Linked DNA regions of Homo sapiens: region 2 is linked to region 1. The links come from fine-mapping of genetic effects on gene expression. Tissue or cell type: prefrontal cortex. Region 1 holds a variant in brackets; the other region holds the start of a gene. All regions are shown on one strand. Distances are from middle to middle.

Region 1 (2,684 bases):
ACAAAAAGTTTTCCTTAGATGCTTTCTGTTTTTAATATCAATCAAATAAATAGTCCTTACTTGGATGAAAACTACTATTTCTACTAATACATCTTTTAACTTACCCCCATCTCTATCTGATCCTATCTATATATGAAGTTAGAGCAGGGAGGAATAGGTGACTCAGAGTCTTTTTCTTTCTCTTTCCCCTTCCCATCCCCTCATTACTTAATAAAAACAGCAAACAAGAGAACTCTAGATTCTAGATAACTTATAAGTATCAATTATCAACTGCCACAACAATGCTTCTTATCAAACAGCTACAAACTTCAGTATCGTGCAGCAGAAAGCATTCACTGCTTGTGCATCTGGGGCATTCAGTCAGGCAGCTCTGCTGATTTCGATTTCCAGAACTGTCTGCAGATCGGCTGGCCATAAGCTGCTGCTCCGCATGCCTCTCATGCAGGAGCCAGCTAGCCCAGGTATATTCTTATGGCAGTGATGAGGTGCAAGTGCAAAAGCTGATGTTCAGGGCTTTTCCAAACCTCTGTATATTGCATATGTTTTTTTCTTTTTTTTTTTTTTGAGACAGAGTCTCACTCTGTCACCCAGGCTGGAGTGCAGTGGCGTGATCTCGGCTCACTGCAAGCTCCGCCTCCCCGGTTCACGCCATTCTCCTGCCTCAGCCTCCCCGAGTAGCTGGGACTACAGGCGCCTGCCACCACGCCCGGCTAATTTTTTGTATTTTTTAGTAGAGATGGGGTTTCACTGTGTTAGCCAGGATGGTCTCGATCTCCTGACCTCGTGATCCGCCCGCCTTGGCCTCCCAAAGTGCTGGGATTACAGGCGTGAGCCACCGCGCCCGGCCCCTGTTGCATATGTTAACACCCCTTTCCCAACAAATCGAACAGTGGGCACAGACTAGGAGGGTACTGGAAGACCACATGCTCAAGGATGCTGATCTCGGAGGGGGCGGGGTGCGTGTGAGGAATTGGAGCCATTAATGAGATCGTTCAACCTCAGGACTTAAGCAAACACATACTACTTGCCTTGTGGCTAATTTGACTATTTCTTTACTCTAGGCATGACTCAGTTACTCAGAAATAATTATTTTTCAATCTTAGTGTCTTCTGTGCCTAGTTTTCTTATCCCTGAAATATAATCTTTGATTTCTATATAATCTAAGTCACGTTCATCTATCCCAGGAATATCTGTGAAGATACATCACCCACAATTTCCTCTCATTTAGTAACTATAATTCAGCCCTTCTGTCGCTCTCCTACATACCAAAATATTGCTGTACACAGCTACGTTTATGGATTCTTTATCCATCCTTGGCTGGACCGCTAATGAAATACCCACATGCCATTCTCAGGCAGTGAAGATTTGAGAGAAAGAGCTCTATTTGAAAACCGTAACAAGTCCGTGGGGTTTCCATGGTTGGAGCACATGCTAAAATTCTCTCTCTCTCTTTTATTCTCAGGGAAAGTTTCAAATGGAAGACTTAGTATATAATCCGGAACAAGTGCCACGTTACTACCAAAATGCCTACCTGCACCTGCGACCCTTCTACAGCACAACCCGCAGCTTCCTTGGCATCCACCGGCTAAACGGCCCCTTGAAATGTGGCCAGCCCCAGGAAGTGCTGGTGGATTATTACATCGACCCGGCCGATGC[AAG/A]CCCTGACCAAGAGATCAGCTTCTCCTACTATGTGAGACCGGGAAACGGGGACGGGTGAGAGTATGCTGGGAAGGAAAGAGAATGAGAAGAGTCAGCCAGAGGGTGCACCTAGGCTATCTGAATTGCAGATGCACATCTAATTAAAAACAATTTTAAAGCCACACTAAAAAAGTAAAAGAACAGTTGACATTAATTTTAAATGTATTTTTTATTTAACCCATTATATCCAAAATATTAACATTTTAACACGAAAGCCATATAAAAAGTTTTAATAGATATTTTACATTCTTGTTTCAACGGTGTCTTTGAAACTCAGTATGTATTTTACACTTAAAGCGTATCTCAGTTTGGACTGAGCACATTTCAAGTATTCAATATTCCTTTTTTTTTCTTTTTTTTTTTTTTTGAGACACAGTCTCGCTCAGTTGCCCAGGCTGGAGTGCAGTGGTGTGTTCTTGGCTCACTGCAAGCTCCACCTCCCAGGTTCACGCCATTCTCCTGTCTCAGCCTCCCAAGTAGCTGGGACTACAGGCGCCCGCCACCACGCCCAGCTAATTTTTTTTGTATTTTTAGTAGAGACGGGGTTTCACCATGTTAACTAGGATGGTCTCGATCTCCTGACCTCGTGATCCACCTGCCTCAGTCTCCCAGAGTGCTGGGATTACAGGCATGAGCCACCGCGCCCGGCCTCAAGTATTCAATATTCCTATGTGGCTATGAGATACTGCATGGCCCAGTATAGGTGTAAGAGATGGAAAACATTGGGGGAAGAAAGAGATTCTGAGCAGGAACACAGGAAAATTGTGTGGGAAAATAAAATGAGGAATTACCTGAGAAAATAGTGCTGGCCAGGACCAAAAAAAACAAAAACAAAAACAAAACCAGCTGGGTGGTTGGGAGGGAGAGTGGGGAGGGATGGGACTCAGGATACTTTTTTTTTTTTTTTAATTTATATGAGACAGGGTTTCGCCATGTTGGCCAGGCTGGTCTTGAACTCCTGACCTCAGGTGATCTGCCCACCTTGG
Region 2 (2,684 bases), 20 kb before region 1:
TTATATTTTAGGTGACTTCTAAGTATTACCATCATAAAGAACACTGTGGGCTGGGCACGGTGGCTCATACCTGTAATCCCAGCACTTTGGGAGGCTGAGGTGGTCCCTGGAGCTCAGGAGTTCGAGACTAGCCTGGGCAACATGGTGAAACCCTGTCTCTATTAAAAATACAAAACAATTAGCCAGGAGTGTTGGTGCCTACCTGTGGTCCCAGCTACTCAGGAGGTGGAGGTGGGAGGATCGCTTGAGCCCAGGAGGTCAAAGCTGCAGTGGGCTGAGATTGTGCCACTGCACTCCAGCCTGGGTGATAAAGTGAGACTCTACTTCAAAAAAATAAAAAATAAAGAAAAGAAAAAAAAGAAAGAACAGTGTGAAAAAACTCAGTGTTACACTTGTGCATACATGCATGCTGTCCTTTTTTTCCTCATTAAGAAACATTTCCAGAGTAGGAGTTGCTGAGTGAAAGAATATGCAAATCTCAAAGGCTTTGGTGTGTATTACAAAATTGCCATGAGAAAGTTATCCACATTCTATTTTCTCTAGGACTGTGTGTGTCCCTATTTCCATACAGTCACAACAATACTGAGTAGTATTAATTTTTTTTTTTTTTGAGACAGAGTCTCGTTGTGTCACCCACGCTGGAGTAAAGTGGCATGATCTCGGCTCACTGCAACCTCCACCTCCCGGGTTCAAGCGATTCTCCTGCCTCAGCCTCCCAAGTAGCTGGGACTATAGGCACCCACCACTATGCCCAGCTGATTTTTTTTTCTTTGTATTTTTAGTAGAGACAGGGTTTCACTATGTTGGCCAGGCTGGTCTTGAACTCCTGACCTGGTGATCTGCCCACCTCAACCCCCCAAAGTGCTGGGATTACAGGCGTGAGCCACTGTGACCGGCCAAGTTTACTGCTTTTCTATTGAAACTGTTCTCATACCCGTGTTCCCAACTACACCTTAATTGAATAATAAAAGAAAATAAGGACATTAAATGAGAACAGGAATTGGAATGAGACCAGAAAAAAAGGGAGGAGTTCAAAATATGTTCTGAGAGCTTTACCATTATGAATACTCAGCTCTGGTTTTCCCCCAAAACTGGCTGAACCAGTATGGATGTTCCAGGCAGAAACAACTTTAAAGAAGTGAATAGTGGCCCTACCCTGGTCCACCACCTAACCTGGTGGTTACAGAAGGAGGAACACAGTCCTCCTGTGTTCCAGGTGCCAGGAGGTGACTGACTATAGCATCAGTCATCACTGCACACCCTACCTGGAATTAGTATATAAAGCTACGCGGAGCGATCTCTGCCCCTGACCCTGGAAAAATCTGTCTCACCCACAAAGATGTGGGCTCAGCTCCTTCTAGGAATGTTGGCCCTATCACCAGCCATTGCAGAAGAACTTCCGTGAGTGCTTGGTGTCAGAATTGGTTTATTAGGGCAGCGGCTTCTTCGCCTAACTTTCTCAAACATTTATATGGAGATGGGGAGATCAACTTTGGTTTATCTTAATTTCCTCCTCCTTTTTTCTCTTCTTTGGTTCCACTGATCCTTTACCCAGAGAGGGAGGCTGACGCATGAAGAGGAAGCTTTAAAAAAGATAAATATTAAAATGTGCCCTGTTTTCTGAAATAGGCCTAATTTCCTCCTTGGTGCTCTAGGCATGTGTGCTCGGTGAGGGCCTCCTGATGGCGGAAGTTGAAGACTGTGCACTGAGTCGTTGCCCCTCTGCTTCTTGTAGAAAATGAGGTGCATAAGGAAGGCAGGGGCTTGGTCTGTCTAATTCACTGCTACTTGCTGAGCGCTTAGGAGAGTGCTGGATTTTTCGAGTGAATGAATCATTATTGCCCTGAAATCCTTCTGCTCCTTTAATAGAAACTACCTGGTGACATTACCAGCCCGGCTAAATTTCCCCTCCGTTCAGAAGGTTTGTTTGGACCTGAGCCCTGGGTACAGTGATGTTAAATTCACGGTTACTCTGGAGACCAAGGACAAGACCCAGAAGTTGCTAGAATACTCTGGACTGAAGAAGAGGCACTTACATTGTATCTCCTTTCTTGTAAGCACAGACTCAGCCCTCACTCGAATCCCTTACTTGCCTATTCTCCTCCCTAGGCTCACTATAATCTACTTTAAGTATAATTTCTGTTATCTTTTGCCACGGCCTCTAAACCTATTTTTTCTCAACTTAACCTCAATCCCCGGCTATAACTCACCCACGGTTTCCTCGACCTAGGATTTCTCCCTTTAGTTCCTGACCTTAATTCTTCCTCGTGGTAATTTGTTTTATGTCTCTATCCTTGCTACCCCCATCTAACTCAGCTCTTTCCTTTAACTCACTGTTGGGTTGAGACCAGTTGATTCTGTTCCCCCAATCCCTTACCCCTCCCCAGAAGTCCCCTTTCTTGGTCAGGTACCACCTCCTGCTGGTGGCACAGAAGAAGTGGCCACAATCCGGGTGTCGGGAGTTGGAAATAACATCAGCTTTGAGGAGAAGAAAAAGGTTCTAATTCAGAGGCAGGGGAACGGCACCTTTGTACAGACTGACAAACCTCTCTACACCCCAGGGCAGCAAGGTAAGAGTCACATATTTGGGGTTCGACTAAAACCTGGGGAAACCGCTGTGCACAGGGGTAAAGAGGGGATTTGTGGTTTGACAGTAGGCTTTGGAAAAAAAGGAGTGCAGAGGA

Direction of the effects. Positions count from the first base shown, and alleles are read on the strand shown. Sizes are in standard deviations (SD) of each study's normalised expression.
In carriers of allele A in region 1, the expression in prefrontal cortex of the gene that starts at base 1,309 in region 2 tends to be lower than with AAG alone (moderate effect, 0.69 SD a copy in BrainSeq).

Evidence for each region. PIP is the estimated chance that this variant, and not a neighbour inherited with it, causes the effect.
Region 2: A2ML1 starts here. The variant in region 1 is fine-mapped to the expression of A2ML1 in prefrontal cortex (BrainSeq, PIP 0.95).

The regions. Positions count from the first base shown.
Region 1 is chr12:8,841,672-8,844,355 of GRCh38, forward strand. It overlaps A2ML1 (alpha-2-macroglobulin like 1), which reads left to right. Exons shown (of 36, transcript NM_144670.6): 12 at 1,463-1,690. Among named protein-coding and RNA genes, the nearest start is that of A2ML1-AS1, 12 kb to the left of the region's middle. The variant AAG/A (reference allele first, on the strand shown) is at 1,657.
Region 2 is chr12:8,821,313-8,823,996 of GRCh38, forward strand. It overlaps A2ML1 (alpha-2-macroglobulin like 1), which reads left to right and starts at 1,309. Exons shown (of 36, transcript NM_144670.6): 1 at 1,309-1,401; 2 at 1,870-2,053; 3 at 2,408-2,570. The coding sequence starts at 1,340. The region is part of intron 1 of A2ML1-AS1 (A2ML1 antisense RNA 1); the gene reads right to left.